4 separate regions of the Homo sapiens genome follow, and regions 2, 3 and 4 are each linked to region 1. The links come from fine-mapping of genetic effects on gene expression. A gene starts in region 1. Each other region holds a variant in brackets. All regions are shown on one strand. Distances are from middle to middle. Region 1 holds the start of DCLK2 (doublecortin like kinase 2). Region 2 overlaps DCLK2 (doublecortin like kinase 2). Region 3 overlaps DCLK2 (doublecortin like kinase 2). Region 4 overlaps DCLK2 (doublecortin like kinase 2).

What was found. PIP is the estimated chance that this variant, and not a neighbour inherited with it, causes the effect.
Region 2: its variant is the best candidate, but not a certain one, in a credible set for the expression of DCLK2 in left ventricle (GTEx, PIP 0.81).
Region 3: its variant is the best candidate, but not a certain one, in a credible set for the expression of DCLK2 in whole blood (INTERVAL, PIP 0.52).
Region 4: its variant is the best candidate, but not a certain one, in a credible set for the expression of DCLK2 in tibial nerve (GTEx, PIP 0.65).

Annotation. Positions count from the first base shown.
Region 1 is chr4:150,075,840-150,080,990 of GRCh38, forward strand. DCLK2 (doublecortin like kinase 2) reads left to right here and starts at 2,606. Exons shown (of 16, transcript NM_001040260.4): 1 at 2,606-3,609. The coding sequence starts at 3,189.
Region 2 is chr4:150,162,045-150,167,195 of GRCh38, forward strand. The region is part of intron 2 of DCLK2 (doublecortin like kinase 2); the gene reads left to right. Among named protein-coding and RNA genes, the nearest start is that of DCLK2, 86 kb to the left of the region's middle. The variant A/G (reference allele first, on the strand shown) is at 2,678.
Region 3 is chr4:150,121,851-150,127,001 of GRCh38, forward strand. The region is part of intron 2 of DCLK2 (doublecortin like kinase 2); the gene reads left to right. Among named protein-coding and RNA genes, the nearest start is that of DCLK2, 46 kb to the left of the region's middle. The variant A/AG (reference allele first, on the strand shown) is at 2,574.
Region 4 is chr4:150,249,832-150,254,982 of GRCh38, forward strand. All of the region lies in intron 15 of DCLK2 (doublecortin like kinase 2), which reads left to right. Among named protein-coding and RNA genes, the nearest start is that of DCLK2, 170 kb to the left of the region's middle. The variant G/A (reference allele first, on the strand shown) is at 1,947.

The DNA of each region.
Region 1 (5,151 bases):
TGGCATATTGTATAATTGTACTCACTATTTAAGAAGGGCCAAATCTCTTATCAAGGATCTTTGAGTGAGGAAGTGCATGTTAGTGTTCTAAAGATTGAAAGATTGAAACCCGTGGTACCAGTCTGCAAGATGACCCCAATAATTGCTGACTCCTAGTCACACCCTAGTGTAGTCTCCTCCCACATCAAACAGGGCTGCCTTGTGTAACCTACAGGATATTGTGGGAATAACAGTGTATGACTTCCAAGGCTATATCATAACACACATTGTGGCTTCCACCTTGTGCTCTCTTGGATGCTTTCTCTAGAGCAAGCTTGTCCAACCCATGGCCTGTGGACTGTACACAGCCCAGGACAGTTATGAATGCAGCCCAATGCAAATTCGTAAACTTTCTTAAAATATTATGAGATTTTGTGATTTTTTTTTTTTTTTTAGCTCATCAGCCATCATTAATGTTAGTGTATTTCCTGTGTGGCCCAAGACAATTCTTCTTCCAATGTGCCCCAGGGAAGCCAAAAGATTGGACACCCCTGCTCTAGAGGAAGCCAACCGACAAGTCATGGTGACACTTAAGCAACTCTATGGAAAGGTACTCATGACAAGGAACTGAGGCCTCCTTACCATTCATGTGAATGGGCTGTCTTGGAAATGGATCTTCTTGACCCAGTCAAGCCTTTAGATGGCTGTGACCCCTGTCAACATCTTGACAGCAATCACATGAGGCTTTGAGGTAAACTGCTCCCAGATTTCCGATCTGCCAAAAATGCTGAGATTATGCATGTTTATTGTTGTAAATCATTAAGTTTAGGATAATTTGTTTCTACAGCAATAGTTTACAAAGTCTTTTTCCCCCTAAGAAATACTAACAGTGATACAAATGAACATGGCCATCTTAAGGCAAGTTGATGGGCTCTGTGGAGTTACTGGTACTTAGATGGAAACTTATCTCAATAAATTTGCAATTTAGTTTCTTGTTTCTCAAAGTCTTGTACCAAGACCAGCAGCATTGGCATTACCCAGGGGCTCATCAGAAATGCAGAATCTCAAACTCCACCCCAGAGCTACAGAATAGCAATCTGCATTTTAACGAGATTCCCCTATGACATGTAAATATATTAAAGTTTGAGAAGAAGCACTGATTTATTTGATTCCTGGTGTTACAGCCTGTGGTTGGAAACTCTGGATATACCTTAGGGGTACTTTTAAAAAAATACTGTTGGAGAAGCCCGTCTCCAGAAATTCTGATTTAACTGATCTAGGTTGAGGCCTTTTAAGGTGGTGGACCTAATGATGCTGCAGGATTTTCCTCTAGAAAAACTACATTGAAGCCTCAGATCAGCTCTGACTTCCTAGCATGCCCCAACCCCGCAGGAAGTTAGGTATGCCCAGGTGTATGCCCAGAACTGCCTTAGGAGTAGTATTGTGCACCGAGCAGGAGACCTTTCTGGAGCTGCCATGAAGGGTGTGTATGCGTGTGTGTGCGTGTGTTTGGTGGGGCGCACCAACTTCACAGATGCTAGACCGTTGCATGTGCTTCTACCTTCTTTTATTCATGCTCTTCCAGGACTCAGTTCAACCCGAAAAAAAGCAACTATGCCTTTCTTCCTGAAAGGTCAGTTTGGATTGCTGTCTAGGGCTGCTCAGAAAACCAGGTGTTGAATGTTCTAAGGTTTCACGTGCCAAATTGGGATCAAACATATTTGAGCTTTATTTTTCCTAATAACAAAATGCAAGTAACTAGTATTTCTCTTAAGTCTTGGAAAAGATGTTTTTATTGTTGAATAGACACTACGGCATTAAGATTTCCACTATGATGGGTGCTCACAAATGATAGGCCTCTTAGGTAAGAAGCTTTAATTGACAACATTAAATATGCGGGGCGGGGGGAGTGGGTGCAGAGTCTCTCTTTCCTTTGTTAGGGCATCCCAGTGACAGAAACAATGCCTGACACATGGTACGCTCTCGATAAATATTCGTTGATTACATAACCCCCTCTACCACCCAATAACTTCTCATCATTCATTCAAAGTTACTGAACGTACCATATTAGCGAATCTGCAATGGAAACAGTGGAGGCTGTTTTCTCAAAGGATTTTCTAATAAAGCAACAAATCTTTTTTAAAAAAAATGAATGGTGTGCCCCAAGTCAATGCTGGGCTTCGGATTTCTGCGGTAGTTTGGCCTGGGGTCCTCACTGGGATGCTGGCTGGGGATGTGCTCCCTGCCCTTGAATCTCCTTCCTTTGTAGTTTTTGGCCTGCGCGGTTACGTTTCCCAGGCGGAGGAGCGCGCGTCGCGGCTGCGCCCATTAACGCGCGGCGCCGGGCAGGAGCCGTCAGGCGGGCGGGGCTGCCCGGGACCCGCAGGAGCTGCTCCTCCCGCGCCGGCGCTCGGCCCCCTCCTCCGCCCCCTCCTCCGCCCCCTCCTCCCCTTCTCCGCGGTTTGGCATCCCCGGGGCCGGGAAGCCTCCTCCAGCGCTGACAGCCTGTCGGCGGCGGAGGGAGGCCAGAGCGCGGATGCTTGCCAGTGGGCCGGGCCTGACCGCTGCGTGGGAGGCGGGCTGCATTATTTCCCGCTAGGGCCGCGCTCCAGGGAAGGAAGGGGCCAGACACGGCCCTCTCAGCCCCGAACGGCGCGCGCTGCCCGGCGGGCGGGATCCGGGCGCGGCCGAGGCGGCGGCGCTGCACCCCGGGCCTGGGCCCGCGCGACTCCCCCGGGGGCCTCTCCCACGCTCCGCGCCCCGCCCCACCCTTCCTTCCTTCCTCCCCTCGGCGCTCCCGGGAGCGCTCGGCAGACGCCCGAGCTTTGTGGGCGCCCGCGGGCCCAGCGCGAGCCTCGGGCGGCCCAACTTTGCCTCTCCCGGTCGGCTCCCGAGCGGGACTTGTGAGGCGTGGCCGGGTGGAGGAGGCGCTTGCGGGGGCGTGGGGCTCCCCGGCAGGCGGGAGGCACGGAGCAAGTCGCACTGGACAATGACCTGGGCAGCTCGGCGCTGCGGACACTTTTAGCTGAGGGCGCGGGCGGGTCGGCTCCTCCGCGGCTCCTCGGCCCCACCTGCGCGGAGAGGGCGGGATGCCAGAGCCAGGTGTCCCGGCGCGTTAAGGGCCCTCGCAGTCAGACGTCCCTGCACCGGCGCTCGCACCCTTAGTCGGCCCGGAACGTCTTTTTGCGGACGCCCTCGGAGCAGCCGCGATGGCCAGCACCAGGAGTATCGAGCTGGAGCACTTTGAGGAACGGGACAAAAGGCCGCGGCCGGGGTCGCGGAGAGGGGCCCCCAGCTCCTCCGGGGGCAGCAGCAGCTCGGGCCCCAAGGGGAACGGGCTCATCCCCAGTCCGGCGCACAGTGCCCACTGCAGCTTCTACCGCACGCGGACCCTGCAGGCCCTCAGCTCGGAGAAGAAGGCCAAGAAGGCGCGCTTCTACCGGAACGGGGACCGCTACTTCAAGGGCCTGGTGTTTGCCATCTCCAGCGACCGCTTCCGGTCCTTCGATGCGCTCCTCATAGAGCTCACCCGCTCCCTGTCGGACAACGTGAACCTGCCCCAGGGTGTCCGCACTATCTACACCATCGACGGCAGCCGGAAGGTCACCAGCCTGGACGAGCTGCTGGAAGGTAGGAGGGGAGGGCGCCGCACGGCAGGTGCGGCGGAGCGCCGGCAGGTGCAGTGGGCGTGAGCCGGCGCAGCGGGGAGCCCGCGGGGTGCTTTCCAAGCCGCACGGGAATTGATGCTTCTGTCTGCTTCTCTAGAGATTGGCTGGGGGTGGGGGCCGGTGGGGTGCCCACATACACACTGACTTTCCTTCCCAAGAGGTTTGTCTCTTAAAGAAGGAAAAAATTTCCTGATGGTCAGGCCAATTTAGGCACTGGTGGCATCTCCTAAGATTGTTGAACTTATTTGTATTGAAGTGCAAACTGTTTGAGAAAATGGTTCTCCCATGGGGAGCTGGGTAATCCCCTACTAATAAGCTCTGTTGGACCCTCGGTGTGGACCCTGGTGCAGGCTCCTGTCATGTTCCAGTATTCGGGGTCCTGTTGTGACTGCTGTCAGAAGCTGTGGTTGTGAAATGCTCTAGGTTGGCTTTCCTAGTTTGCCTTGCAGCAGAAGTTACTTGAGGTGAAGAGGGATGATCCTAGACAGCAGGTCTCAACCTTGGCTTCATCTTGGATCACACTGGGGACTTCGAAAAATATGGGACCCTGATCCCCCAACCCCCAGATATCCTGATTAAATTGGTTGGGTTTGGGGTGTGGGTTAGGCGTCTGGAGTCTCAAAAGCCCCCCCCCCAGGTGATTCTAATGTGGGACCCTGGTTAACAATCACCGTGCTAAAGGGTTTTCCACATTTGGTTGGAAAAAAGGTAAATCAAGGTCAATCTCTCCAGCCTTATCCTCTAATAAGAGTACCTAATTAGAATGATAGAGGCCATTGGATTCAGCAGTGGGGACTTATTAAAAATTAGTAATTCTGCTGTGTCAACCATGCCTCGGTCAAAGAGACTGCTTGGCTGGATGTTGGGTCATCCTTGAATTCCTGCAATACGTATGCCTCATCCTTTTCAGGTAGAAAAGGCATTATCAGTGGTTAAGAACCTGTTTCCAGTTCTAAATAACATCCAGAAAGACCAGGCAGAACCCAGGTATGTGCTGACTGCGTGTTTACATACAGTCCGCTCTTGTGCATCTTTCTTAATGCAAATGGCACATTCCATGTAGTCATAGCAATAGCTTGGCAGGGAGAGGAAGCTGAACATCAAGCCAGATGTTTTTCTTATATTATCTCAGCATGCTTTTCTGTCCTGAAGGCATTATCCCCATTTTATAGATGAGGAAACTTAGGCAGCATGCCTTGCCTCACAGTGCCTGCAGCATATACTTTCTCGTCTACGATTCACCTCTGCTGAGCTAATGGAGCCACATGGAGGAAAACTAAAGGTCGTTGAGTTTGTCTATTTAGTCAGAAGTTTTTGCTGCCCTGCCTAGAACGCGACCCAGCCAAAATTAAATTGTCTCTTCAGTCTACATATGTATGTGCTTGTGACTTCACCCATTCTGTCAGTTGTGTGTTTTGGTTTTAAGGGCTTCTTGAGGAGGTAAGGGGATAGCTGGAGGAGTATAAGTAAAAAAGGAAGATACAATGTTCAAAGGGCCTTGTTG
Region 2 (5,151 bases), 86 kb after region 1:
TTTTGAAACAGGGTCTTGCCCTGTTGCCCAGGCTGGAGTGCAGTTGTACAAACATGGCTCACTGCAGCCTCAACCTCCTGGGCTCAGATGATCCTCCCACCTCAGCCTCCCAAATAGCTGGCACCATAGGCATGCGCCACCATGCCTGGCTAATTTTTTGCATTTTTTGTAGAGATGGGATCTTGCTATGTTGCCCAGGCTGGTCTTGAACTCCTGGCCTCAAGCAGTCCTCCAACCTCGGCCTCTCAAAGTGCTGTGATTACAGGCATGAGCCACTGCATCCAGCCTGATTTATTTTTAATACATTAAAGTTGAGTTATTAGGGACAGAGGAGAAACTTTAGACCCTCTGCTCTTCAAGTATTGGGATTTAGGGCCAACTTTATTAAGTAGTATTATCTTCCATATATATTTGTATAACTTTCCTCATAAAATTTCCATCCCATGTTGTGAAAGATCAGAATGTTAATTTTAGTTAACCTAATAAATATCTAGATATTTTAAATTAATTTATTGAATGTAATTTCAAATTAAATGTATGTCTTAATTATGTTTCTGAGCTTTTTCTAAGTCTTCTATTTTTTTTAATTTTTAAATTTTTTTATTTTATAGAGATGCACTCTCACTCTGTGGCCCAGGCTGGTCTCAAACTCCTAGACTCAACTGATCCTCCTGCCTCAGCCTCCCAAAGTGCTGGGATTTTAGGCATGAGCACTGTGCCCAGCCTAAGTCTTCTATTTTAAAGGCCTTCCTTGCTGTACGTACTCTTTGCTTCCTGGGACATTGATAAGTTTAACCTAGAAGTAGCTGCAACATAGAGGACAATAACTCAGACCCACATTTGACAGATCTTCTCTTTTCACTCACTTATTCTGCCTCCTGGCCTTATCATTTAGCTTACTATTTAATATGACATTAGAATTGTCTAACGAATTGTTGGTACTGAGAATTGACTGTGACTGCGCAACACATCTTTCTTTCTTCCAAAATTGGCAAAACGACAGTTGGTTAATCATTCTGCAGGGCGGTACCTAAGCAAATGGAGTCCTATCTTTTGAAACCAGTCATTTAAGGCTGGGCTCGGTGGCTCACGCCTGTAATTCCAGCACTTTGGGAGGCTGAGACAGGCAGATCTCCTGAGGTCAGGAGTTTGAGACCAGCCTGGCCAACATGGTGAAACCCTGTCTCTACCAAAAATACAAAAATTCACTGGGCGTGGTGGCAGGCACCTATAGTTCCAGCCACTTGGGGGGCTAAGGCAGGAGAATCGCTTGGACCTGGGAGGCAGAGGTTGTAGTGAGCTGAGCCTCTGCCACTGCACTCCAGCCTGGGTGACAGAGTGAGACTCCGTCTCAAAATAAATAAATAAATAAATAAATAAATAAACCAACCAGCCATTTAAATATCATTCATTCCCTTTTTTCTTCAATAACTACTACATTATAGAGGAGTTCAAAGCCCAGGATCCTTGCCCAACCGCCACCCCATGGTGTGTGATTTCATTATATAACTTAATCTCTCTGAGCCCATTTCCTTGTCTATACTATGAAGAAAATTATAGAGCTCAGTTGTCTGAATTAAATAAGATACTATCTAGAAAATATTCTCTCTGGCTTTAGAACTCAGTAAGAACTCAGTAAACATTAGTTATTAAGCAGTTACTATATTGTGCAGGCATGCTCAAGATTATATGTTTTAGGCACTTAATTTGTATCACATTTTTCAATTTCTAAAAGCTGCTGTCTTGCATTGTCATTTGGACCTCAAGAAAATGAATGATTATGATTGAGATGAAGAGTCACCAAAGTTCTTACCAATTTTAGGAAGTTAGTTATTTTATTTATAATTATTTTCTACTTTCCATGGTTAAGGACAGTACCAACCCTTTGCAACATCTGTTTTGCTTTTTGTTTTGTAGAGCTGTGATCTCACTATGTTGACCAGGCTGGTCTCAAACTCCTGGCCCATCCTCCTGCCTTGGCCTCTGAAAGTGCTGGAATTATAGGCATAAGCCACTGCACCAGCCTAACACAGCCCATTTTATTTCTGACATTTCCTTATGGTTTTTAGGCCAGCAATATAAAGTTGACCCTCAGTTTTCCTTGGAAGTTAGAGTATAATGTCTGTCTCTTTAAGACAGTTGATTTTAACCCCAGCTGCTAATTAGGATGACCTTGGAGAGACTTTGGCTGTTACTGATGAAATACAGATGCCTGGCCCCATGCCCCAGAGTCTGATTAAGTGGTCTGGGTTGGGCCTGTGGCATCAGCATTTTTGAACTGTGCAGCCACTGCTCTAAGGAATATTTTCAGTTTACTTACTTACCCCCCTACCCCCATACCCTACTCCCAAATTAAAAGCCTATAGCTCATCAGCAAATTGCAACAATTCCAGATAGTCTATAGATTAACAGCTGTTAATTTGTAGATAAATGAATTAGCTAAGTACATATATTGTTTAAAAATATTTTAAGGGTCGGATGTGGTGGCTCACACCTGTAATCCCAGCACTTTGGGAGGCCGAGGTGGGTGGATCACCTGAGGTCAAGAGTTCGAGACCAGCCTGGCCAACATGATGAAACCCCATCTCTACTAAAAATATAAAAATTAGCTGGGTGTGGTGGTGCACACCTGTAGTCCCAGCTACTTGGGAGGCTGAGGCAGGAGAATTGCTTGAAC[A/G]CAGGAGGTGGAGGTTGCAGTGAGCTGAGATTGTGCCACTGCACTCCAGCCTGGGCAACAGAGTGAGACACTGTCTCAAAAAAAAAATTAAGTCCAGTTATATTTTATTAGTACAGATTAACCATAACATATCTCCTGGAGTACTAAAAATTCATTTGGAGTTGCAATATCATTGTATAGGGTGAAACAAAAATTATCTTGATTCTTGTCACACTGTAAGACCCTTACTGTTCTCCTTTTAAAGATTTTGAGCACACCAATTTATGACAACACTTGTTTTGGTTTACATGAGTAATCTCTGATTTTGTAGTGAATAAATGGGTTTAACCATCCTGAGACAAATTCATTCATAATCTTTAGAGAAGATTCCCTGAGGGCATGAACATTCCATATGCCTGTAATGATGGAATATACCTTCGGGAGAGGAACTTCCTTGTTTAAAAACACTTTTAACAACTGCTGAGGACTATGGGTGTTGTGATTAAATTAAAGTGGTCATTGAGCTGTGGAGTGTTTAATTCTGTGGTTTCTTCTGATCTTTGTCTGCCTTTGAGTACACCAGCACTGTTTCTGTTCTATAGATCTGGCAGCTGTTAGAAATGCCATGCGTGTTTGCTAAGAATTGGGTGGTAATTTTATATACAATAACTGCTGATTGGGTTGCCCAGGGTTGAGTTTTTTTTTTGATTTGTCTTCCCACATGAAGTTGGTTAGATTGGAAAATTTGCTCCAATTGCTAAAGATTGCTTTTAAATGTGCAGCATATTAGCCACAGTTGTTGCCATAAGCAGCTGCATGCTGCATATTAGCTTGAATACACAATAAACATTTTATGGTTGGAATAGTGAATATCGCTGGAGGAGAGAACCTATTTCAAAGAGAACATAAATTGGCCTATAAAAAAGTAAGCAGAAACCTTAAACCTTAGATTGTTAGGTTTGTGAGTCCTCTGCTTAGAACTGATGGAAGGGCTACCTTGTTACATTTACAGTGTTACCTAGGTTCATTTTAATTGTTTCACCTGATGCTGTGGTTTGAATGTGTCCCCCAAAAGTTCATGTGTTGGAAACTTAATCCCCAGTGCAACAGTGTTGAAAGGTAGAGCCTAATAAGATCTGATTGGATAATGAGGGCAGAGCCCTCATGAATGGACTGTCATTGTTATGGGAGTAGGTGAGTTATGAGAGTGAGTTGTTATAAAGTGAGTCTGGCGCCTGGTGCCTCTGTCTTGTGTGTTCACTTCCACCTTCCCCCTTCAACTGTGGGATGACCATCTGTAGACACCAGTGCCAAGCCCTTGGACTTCCCAGCTTCCAGAACCGTGAGAAATAAATTTCTTTTCTTTATAAACTACCCAGACTGTGGTGTTCTATTGTAGTCACACAAAACTAAGAAGACACCAGGTGTCCGAGTTTGGATTCTAATCATTTAATGGAGGTAATTTAGATATTAATACCAACACAGAAGTTATTTAAAAATCTAACACGGCCAGGAATGGTAGCTCACACCTGTAATCCCAGCACTTTGGGAGGCTGAGGTGGGAGGATTACCTGAGCGCAGGAGTTCAAGACAAGCCTGAGCAACATAGCGGGACCCCATCTCTACATAAAATTTTTAAAAAAATTAGCCAGGTGTGGTGGCATGCACCTGTGGTCCTAGCTACTTGGAAGGCTGAGTTAGGAGGATCACTTGAGCCTGGGAGATGAAGGCTGTGGTGAGCTATGATTGTGACACTGCACTCCAGCCTGAGTGACAGAGTGAGACCCTGTCTCAAAAAAAAGTACAAAAAACAAAAACCGATATTCTACTTGTCCCCAGCATTCTTCATTACTTGTGAAATTGCGAGTATATCCTTGTTGTTTTATCTTTGAAGGGGTGAAGTTCTGGGAGCTGCCTTGTGTGATGAGTACACATTTTCCTGTTTTCTTTGTGTGACAAATGACTACCTAAGATGCAAATGTTAATGCATAATTTATCTGAGTTTGTAATTAGAGCAAGGCACTCCAAGCAGTGATTAAGTCCTTTTTGTTCATGCAATCTTTGTGCACTGTCATGAAGAGGTGGGTGCTTGCTGGGCTGATTGCTGGTCCTTTTCTGATTAGGAGACAACGCTCAAAAAGCAGCACTTCTGACTTTTTTCAGATCCTTCTGAATGGCAGGGAGCCTTGCCTCCTTTTCAGAGATCTTCCTTGTCTTAAGGATAAGTGGTGGGCGGGACACTGCCTAATGATAACTATGATCATGTAAAATAGCCACTGATTAAAGAGTAGTTCACTGGGCCCGCCTGGGTGCATTATTCTCATTGGGAGGCACTTACTGGGGTGGGGTCGAGGTAATTCTCTTTGATATTCAGGAGATAAATTGTACTCATCAGAACCCCATCAGTTAGTTAAAGGCAGTTTAGAATGTGCTTTCCTGATTTTAAGAGGGAAAAATGCCAAAAAAAAAATATCTGTTTCAATTGGAAGGAGGAG
Region 3 (5,151 bases), 46 kb after region 1:
TCTCTCTGTACCTCTGCATCAGAGCTCTTAGATAACCAGGTGCATTGTCAAAGAGCAGTAATATTTTGAAATGAATTTTTTTTCCAGTAGGTCTCAACAGTGGTACTTAAAATATTCAGTAAACCATGCTGTAAATAGATGCACTGTCATCCAGACTTTGTTGTTCCATTTATAGAGCACAGGTAGAGTAGATTTACTATAATTCTTAAAGGCCTTAGGATTTGGGGAATGGTAAATGAGCATTGGCTTCTTTTACTCTATTTGATAGCATTTTAGCCACAGTAGAACTTCTTTCAAAATTTGTCATTCCTCCCGAGCCCTGCTGCTGCTTTATCAACTAAGTTTATGGAATATTCTAAATCCTTTGTTGTCATTTCAACAATAGAGCATATATGCTATTACTGGGTATATACCCAAAGGATTATAAATCATTCTACTATAAAGACACGTGCACACCTATGTTTATTGCAGCACTATTCACAATAGCAAAGACTTGGAACCAGTCCATATGCCCGTCAATGATAGACTGGATAAAGCAAATGCACATATACACCATGGAATACTATGCAGCCATAAAAAAGTATGAGTTCATGTCCTTTGCAAGGACATGGATGAAGCTGGAAACCATCATTCTCAGCAAACTAACACAGGAAGAGAAAACTAAACACCACATGTTCTCCCTTGTAAGTGGGAGTTGAACGATAAGAACACATGGACACAGGGAGGGGAACATCACACACCAGGGCCTGTCAGTGGGTGGGGGGCTAGGGGAGGGAGAGCATTAGGAGAAACACCTAATGTGGATGACGGGTTGATAGGTGCAGCAAACCACCATAGCACGTGTATACCTATGTAACAAACCTGCACATTCTGCACATGTATCCCAGAGCTTAAAGTATAATTAAAAAATTGGTTGTTTAATGTATACACCTTCATCAGTTGTCTTAGCTGAATCTTCTGGATAACTTGCTGCAGCTTTTTCATCAGTACTCGCTGCTTCACCTCACACTTTTATGTCATAGCAAGGGCTTCTTTCCTTAAACCTCATGAACCAACTTGTGCTAGCTTCCAGCATTTCTTCTGTGCCCGCATCAGGTAAGAGCTTTGTCACCACTCTCAGCCTTCATAGAATTGAACAGAATTAGGACCTTGCTTTGGATTAGGCTTTGGCTCAAGGGAATGTTGTAGCTGGATTGATCTTCTCTTCCAACCAAACATTCTCCACATCAGCAATATGCCTTTTAATTCATGTGATAACTAAAGTAGCAATTTTAATTTCCAAGAGCTTTTCTTTTGCCTTCATAACTCAACTGTTTGGGGGAAGAAGCCTAGCTTTTGGCCTGTCTTGGTTTTTGACATGTTTTCTTTACTAAGCTTGGTCATTTCTAGCTTCTGATTTAAAGTGAGAGATTGACTCTTCCTTTCACTTGAACACTTAGAGGCCATTGTAGTGTTATTAGTTAGCCTAGTTTCAGTATTGTTGTAACATCTCAGGAAATAGGGAGGCCCAAGGAGAGGGAGAGAGATGAGGGAGCAGCTGGTTGGTGGAAAAATCAGAACACAAACATTTATAGGTTAGGTTTGCTGTCTTACATGAGCGCAGTTTCTGGCGCACCAAAATGATTACAGTAGTAACATCAAAAAATATCACAGATGACCCTAATGGCTATAATAATAATAAAGCAGTCTGAAATATTGTGAAAATTATCAAAATATGACAGACGTGAAGCGAGCACAGGCCGTTGGAAAAATGATGCCAGCGAACTTGCCTCATACAGGGTTGCCACGAAACTTCCATTCGTAAAAAGCTCAGTGTCTGTGAAGTGCAGTAAAGTGAAGTGCAGAGATATCCCTGTGTTTGCCTTTTCAGTAACCCTCTGCAGTTTTTCAGATTTAAAAATTAACGTTGGACTGGGTGTGGTGGCTCATGCCTGTAATCCCAGCACTTCGGGAGGCCAGGGCGGGAAGAGTGCTTGAGCCCAGGAGTTCAAGACCAGCTTGGGCAATTAGTGAGACCTCATCTCTACAAAAAATTAAAAAGTAGCCGGGTGTGGTAGCACATGCTTGTAGTCCCAGCTACTCGGGTGGCTGAGGTGGGAGGATCGTTTGAGCCTGGGAAGCAGAAGTTGCAGTCAGCCAAGATCACACCACTGCACTCCAGCCTGTCTCAAAAAAAAAAAAATTAACCTCATACTTTTGGTTTTAAATAAAGAAGAGCGCCACACTTGAAAGAGCAAGACAAACTTTCATGAATATTCTCCCTGTGTATTTTTAGGACATTTAATTGTAGTGTGATGCAGCTGCCAGACTCTCAGCACAGTGTTGGAAAGCTCTGTAGTCATTAGACATTTGCCTCCACAGAAGTTTAATTCTCTGAGCCTGAGGACTGTTAGCGATGAAGCAACGCCCACCCAGAAGGAGCATTTCGCTTTTCTTTATGCATTTCAGGCTCTTAAGACTTTCAAGAAGATTTTATTTAAAATTTTCTTTTTTTGTTTTGTAGTGGTTTATGGCAGGCTTCTCATAATGTGAACATAAAGACATTTGATTATATTTGAAAATATTGTTCTTTT[A/AG]GTTTGCCCACATTCTAAGTCATTAAAATGCCATTTTAAGAATGAGTTATGGAAGATATTTAAGTATCTGTGCATCAGTGCATACTGAAGCTGACGTTAGTTACATGGTTGCATTTTTGAATCATTAAGTTTATTAAACACCTAGTCTTTTACATTGTATATTTTTGTGGTAAAATATTATGGCTGTCACATGCCATTTTGAAAATGCAAATTAAAAAGTTTTTACAAAAACCAAAAGTTGCATAAATGGAAACTTATAAAAGCCCACTTAAGTAACTTAATCCAAATTTTAACATCTTAGATGCCTCTCAGCTTAATACAGTAGCCCAAATTTTACATGTAGACAGAAGATGAAAGTTTAAAAGTTTTTCTGGAAGTTAAAAGTGATTTTCTCTTGCAGAGCATTCCCACCTAGGCAGTACCAATCAATGTCTTAATTACTTCTTGAGCTTTTAAGACTTGAAAAATGTCAGTATGATTTGTGCCCCCAAGGAGCTGGTTGCATGCATTGGAGTCCAGAAAATACAAATTAAAATTTGATTTAAATATATTTATTTCCCCTGACACACAATTCCATTATGAGACAAGTTTCACACAGGTACAGTGACAAATGCCATTAGAGATGAGAAAGACACCAATGTTTTTACTAGCAGTATTGTTTCAGACTATGCATGTTGTCATGTCGTTCTCAAGATCATCTTGTGGTAGGTATATGGTTGTATTCCCACATAAGGAATGCCACAGAGACATTCAAAGAACTTTTGTCCTTTGGTTTTGATTTGTCATGTTGGATATAATCAGGATGCATTTATCTTATGAATCTCTGGACATTTTTTTATTTGCTCTCAAGGCTCATTTCCAAGATTCAAAAATCAGTTTTACCACTCTATAATTATTCCTATTTTCCAGAATATGTTATGTAGTATAATTATTTATTCAATAGACTTGGCTCTGACTAGCTTCTTAAACTTTTTCCAGAACTTTTATTGTATTCACCCTCAAATGATGAAGAGTGACAACCATCAATGATATTCAAAGAATATGATATAGAAGTAAAACATTTCCAAAGTTTTATATACTATTTTGAGCCAATGTTTGGTAAGTGGGAAAACTGAATTCAAAATTGTCTACCCTATGTTTATAACTATCTAAAAATGACTATCTAAAAATAGTTATGCATGTGTGGCCAGGCGCGGTGGCTCACTCTTGTAGTCCGAGCACTCTGGGAGGCTGAAGCAGGTGGATCACTTGAAGTCAGGAGTTCAAGACCAGCCTGGCCAACGTGGTGAAACCCCATCTCTACTAAAAATACAAAAAATTAGCTGGGCGTGGTGGCATGCACCTGTAATCCCAGCTACGTGGGAGGCTGAGGCAGAAGACTCACTTGAACCCGGGAGGCGGAGGTTGCAGTGAGCTGAGATCGAGCCACTACACTCCAGCCTGGGCAACAGAGTGAAATTTTGTCTCAAAAAAAAACCACAAAAAACCCACAATAAAAATAGTTATGCATGTAGACAATACTATAAAATAATATAAAAAGAAAATAATTTGTCTTAGTGATAGGATTGTGAATGACTTTTCTTTCTGAAAATTTCCTTTATTGTTACAGTTATGCAATAAATTAAAGTCAGTATTTTAGGCAGTCTCAACATGTTTGGATACTATGAGAGTGGACTCACAAAGGAGTCAACTGATCTTCAGACCTTTGAATTTTGCCAGTTGCCCCTCTAAGAAGCCATTCTTACAGTGTTTGTGAGCAGCGGGCTAAGATACGACAGAAAATGTTTTTTGGCTAATGAATAATTAATTCATTCAGCTATTATTTTGTGCCTATTCTATGGTAGGCACTCTACGAGACACATGAGGAACAAAGATATGTAAGACAAGGTCTCTGTATTTTGAGGAACTCTTATTGTAGTAGAAAAGACAAATGCAAGAACTAATAATAATTTTAAGTCAGGGTGAGTCTATTAATAGCCAGCAGTGATGCAAGAGACTGTGGTCAAAGAAGGGAAGCTAACTCTTTGTAGAGGCATCAAAAATGCTTCACAGAGGAGGTGACAGATTTGTTAAGGATATTCCAGGCCGTGGAGTAATAGGTTTTAATTTGGTGCTTTAATTTGGAAGAATATCTCAGGAGATGGTAATATGTATTTTAGGTCTTTTTTTAGGGCTTTACAATTTTTAAAAAATATATTTTGGCTTTTATTTTGAAATAACTTTAGACTTACAAAAATTGCACAAATTGTACACAGAGATTATATATGCCCTCCATCCAGCCTCCCGTAATGCTGATATCTTCTGTAAACATAGTGTAGTTATTTAAAACAGGAAATCAACAGAGTTGGTGCTATTAACTGATCTACAGACCTTATTTGAATTTTGCCAGTTGTCTCATAAATGTCTTTGTTTTAGTACAGCATCCAATCCAGGATCCCACATGGATTTACTTGTCATATCTCCTTAATAGCCTCTAATTTGTAACAGTTCCTTTGTCTGTCTTTGTCTCTCATGATCTTTTTGAAGAGTTCTGGCTAGTTGCTTTGTACCGTTTGCTTCAATTTTGGGTTCTCTGGTA
Region 4 (5,151 bases), 170 kb after region 1:
CATTCGGCAACTCCCAGGCTTTGGGCACTGTGTGGAGGGGCTTGTGTAGGGACCAGCAGGCCTGGTGTGAGGGGTCCAGGCGTCAAGGAGCTCCTGGCTGGGCCCTCTGGGCAGCTGCTTCCACTCTTGTCTCTGCCTTCTCATCTAGAGAGACTCCCAAGCCCTGGAGGGGTGTGTTGTGTTAGGAATTAACTCCCTGCCTACCCCAAGGCCTCAGAAATAGATTATTAGAGATGTGAATTATTCTTTGAGACTTGGGATAAGAAACAGCCAAAGCTAAACATATTTCAGTTTTAAAAAATCAGTGTTTTATAAAACACAGTTTGGGGCTTTTAAAGGTACATAATCAAGGAAAAAAATATATATTCATTTTTCAGGGTTGGTAACATTTTATGAGATGTCAGTGACAACGATGGCCTTATTTTTTTCAGCCTTTTCTTCTTCCAAAATGTTTCTTAAGGCAACTCTCCTAAATACATAAACACAACAAATTAAAATGAAAAGTGACATGAGAGTAAATGAATCAAAAGGAAAAAACATTGAACCAGAGGTGAGGGCAGCACACCCGCAGCAGCTGTCCAGGCCTGAGCCAATGCAACCCTGGGCGGGAAGGCCAGCTCACCGTGAGCAGGTAGAAGCCAGCCAGCCACCCAGGCAGGGACCTTGGTTCTCCCCACACACTCCCAGGAGCAGGGAACAGGGGTGGAGTGGCCTTTCCCAGAGCTGGAGTTGGCTGCAGCAGCTTTCGAATCAGACCTGCCAAGGTGATGGGCGTCTGAGTTTCACATCTGGGCCCCCCGTGACCCCACTGAGTCCTGACAGCTAAGGATGGGCCACCTCCACAGCTCCGTCACTCGTACTTGGGACAGGCCTCTCATCCTCTGGGAAGGTCCTCCTTGTTTCCTACCCAACTAGAAGGGAAACAGTGGCATATTCTCATGGTACATGGTTGTCTGAGAGCCTTACCTAGGAAGACGCAGGGTCTAGATAGAAGCTATAAGGAAGCCACACACATAACCCACATCCCCACACCCCCAACATCCCCCACACTCCCCACACCCCCCACACCCCCCACATCCCCACACACCACAAATCCTCCACACCCCCACACCACACATCCCTCACACCCCCCACACCACACATCCCCCACACCACACATCCCTCACACCCCCCACACCACACATCCCCCACACCACACATCCCTCACACCCCCCACACCACACATCCCCCACACCACACATCCCTCACACCCCCCAACACCCCCACACACCCCCCACACCACACATCCCCCACACCACACATATCCCCCACACCCCCCACACATCCCCCACACCCCCCACATCCCCCACACCCCCCAAATCCCCCACACCACCCACATCCCCCACACCCCACACATCCCCCACACCCCCACACATCCCCCACACCCCACACATCCCCCACACCCCCCACACCACACATTCCCTCACACCCCCCACACCACACACCCCCACATACCCCCACACACTCCCATCCCCCACACCACACATCCCGCACACCCTCCACACCACACATCCCCACACACCTCACACCCCCCACACCCCCACACAACCCACATCCCCCGCACCACACATCCCCTACACCCCCCACTCTACACACCCCACACCCCAACACACCCCACATAACCCCCACATACCCCACACCCACACCCCCCACACCCCCCACACCCCCACCCCCCACATACACACCCACACACCCCACACCCCCACATAGCCCACACAGCCTACACACCCCACACCCGAACACACCCCACATACCTCCACACACCCCACACCCCCCGCCCCCACGAGCGTGCAGCACTCTGTTATATGCATTGAGCATACACCAGGTACCCCCACACACCCCCAACACCCCCACACACCCCACACCCGAACACACCCCACATTCCCCACACACCCCACACACCCCAC[G/A]AGCATGCAGCACTCTGTTATATGGATTGAGCGTCCACCAGGTTCTCAGCACCCACTGGGCCGTCATTCTCTTCTGTCCCCCGGCTGCGTTTATGTGGCCACCCTCTGTGTGTCCTTGCAACTCCCCAGCTGCTCCCCTGCCAGAAAGTGTGCTCTCCCTCTCTCCCTCTCTCCCTCTCCAGACAGAGCCTGGGTTTGCAAGCTGAGTCTTTTGATGGCTTGCAGGACTTTGGGGGCGCTCTGTGCCAAAGCAGTGAGAAGGCCTTTTGAGTTGTGGTTTCCCTTGAATTTTAGCAGTGTTTTGCTGAAAGCCTGAGAAAGTCAGAGTTGTCAAAGAATTACAGCTTAGACACTTTGAAAAGAACCATCTTGATTGAGCCAACAGCATGAGAATGTTTCCAGCGATTCCCTTGCGAGAGCTAGCATTGATGGATGGGCTCAGTGGTACACAGTCTTGCTGTGCACTGCGTTGTAAGGCAGCTTCTTGGAAAATTTAGAAAAATAAAACATTAAAAATTGGCATACTCAACGTGTCATGAAAAAACCTTAAGAAGAGAGATTGGTTAGGATCAAAATTTAATAACCATGTTAAGTCTTCTGAGAGGAAGAACCTTTAACCGCCCTGTGCCCAGGGCTTAGGAGAGTTTGCTCGGAGACTGTGAAGGGAGTCATTGCTGGGGTCACTTTTTGACTCAGGGGCCCAGATAGGAATCAGTGGCCATAGGCCTGTGCCCGGCCTCTTTATGGCTGGCTCTCAGCTGACATTCTGGAATGATTAGCTGTTCTACAGGCTCTGTCCTAGATAATGACGCTTAGACCCCCTCAGACAGAACCTATGTCGTGTGGTTTACAAATACCATTTTCCATTTGCTGATGAGGAGTTCAGGACTCAAAAGACAAACCCCTGGGCTCTGACAGGGTGTTTGTGTGAACAAACAACCCGTTATTGTTTGCAGCTCTGATGGTGATTGTAAATGTTGTATGTTTATGTGTGTTCAGTTGTCATTTTGCGCATGTTGGCAGGGTGTCCCCTCTAACCCCATGTTACCTACACAACTCTGCAGGCTGTTAGCTCAGAGGAACTGCTGATGTCATGATCCCATTCAGTACCTACAGGGAAATTCAATCAGTCTTGCCTCTGGTGGCACCCATTCTCGATGGCCAAAACACCAGCCTGTGACTTTTGGGCTGTCCCAAAAAGTGGGAGGGGAAGGCCTGCTGCTGATCCTCCCCTGGCGCAGGACCTGGTCTGGGGCATGGTTGTGTGGGGGAACTTGCGATGCTGCTGTATTGTCCTCCTCGTCCTCCTCATCCTCCTCGTCCTCCTCATCCTCCTCATCCTCCTCATCCTCCTCACGTCACTGTGTGTCCTGTCTTCGGAACAGTTTTAAGTGTTTTTACATTAAAAATAACCTCAAAATGACTCTCCCTGGTACTCATAGGTCCTCATAACTGAGACTGTGGGGCCAACCTGGTTTTCTGCAGATACAAATGATAGTGGAAATAGTGTCAACCGTCTGGAGGTTGAATCATCAGATAACTTACAGACAGGACCTTCCCATCTGCTGTCACCCTAGTGTTCTCATCCCCAGAGCTGGGGCCTGAGACTTCAGTGAGAAAATGATGGGCTAGAAATTGGTCCATAAAGGTGAAAAAAAAGTAAAGTTGATGGTGTTATCTGCATTTTGTTTGACAGTTTGATTTGACAGTTTGAGAGGCACCTCAGAGTTTCCTTCTTTACCCCGCTGAGACAGTGGGAGAGCCTGAAGCAGAATCCTGGTATTCACCACGCTGCGTCCGACCAGCGCGCCCCATCCTCAGCCCCTCTCACGCCTGCATGCTTGTCTCAGTTTCTGATGCCGCCGTCCGGCTCTCAGCTGCTTACTGGTGTGGGTCTTTTGTACCTACTCACATCCTTTCCAGCCAGCCAAGCAGGCCCCTGGAAAACTTTATTTTCAAACTTCTCAGCTTACCACACTGCCTGCCTTTCCAGACCAACAGCTGGTGAGAGCACGGGAGGAGTCCCATAGTTCTCCTACCGATGCTGTTTCCCACTTAGGTGAAAAGTGGCTTTTCGGAAAGAGCAGCTTAAGATGGTGCCTTCGTGAAGGCTTTTGTTCTTTCTCCAGCTGCATTTCCAAAGATGAGTTTGTATCAGTAAGTGTAATCTCAGCCAGCCTTTGGGATAAGAGAAGATAATTTAATGGGTGAGGCCTTGGTTTCAGGCAGGGCTGAGGTGTGGGATTACAGTTCCCATTTTCTTGGACTTGTCCTTAGCATGCGTAAGAAAGGACAGAGCAGGGTGCATGCAGGACGGCCTCCCATGTACCCCGGGGGGCTCGCCCCAGTTGCAGAGACCAGGAGAGACCATCTTGTGGTGGGAAGGGAATGCCGAGAAGCCGCCGTCACTCGGCGCCTGCGGTGCAGACTTGAGAAGGGACGGATTCAAGGGCATTGCCTTCTTCGCTGGGGGATTATGCCTTGTTTCAGGGGGAAGTTGGGGAAGGATTTGGGTTTATTGCCTTAATTTAAGATAGACAAAACTGTTTCACTCGTGTTGCTTCTGTTGAAAGTAAGTCTAGTTTCTGTCCCTGCTTCTCTCCTGCCTTCTGCCTCTCCCGCCGCCTGCATTGCTTCCCTCTGGCTAGGTCCAAGGCCATGGTATGTACTAACCGCACTGCCAGCCTGCCTTCTGCCACACACGCCCCTGTGCTTCTGACAGGAAGAGAAAAGGAGAAATAACGGGGGGATTGTTTTCTTGTACCCAGGAGACATTTTGTGGTAGGAAAAACCTGTATGCTGGCTCTCTGCTTCCCATGTAGGTGGGAGCATCTTTTAGTGGAGTTTTCCACAGTTACCCTTTCTCCAGGTAGTTGAAATTGTCCTTGGAAATTGTAGGGATTTGGGGAGTTTTGTTTATTGAGACAGGATCTTGCTCTGTTGCCCAGACTGGAGTGCGGTGGTGTGATCCTAGCTCACTGTATCCTCAAACTCCTGAGCTCAAGCCATCCTCCTGCCTCAGCCTCCAAGTAGCTAGGACTACAGGTGCACGCCACCTTGCCCGGCTAATTTTTAAATTCTTTGTGGAGATGGAGTCTCTGTGTTGCCCAGGCTGGTCTCAAACTCCTGACCTCAAGTGATCCTCCCTCCTTGGCCTCCGGAAGTGCTGGGATTACAGGTGTGAGCCACTGCACCCGGCCAGAAA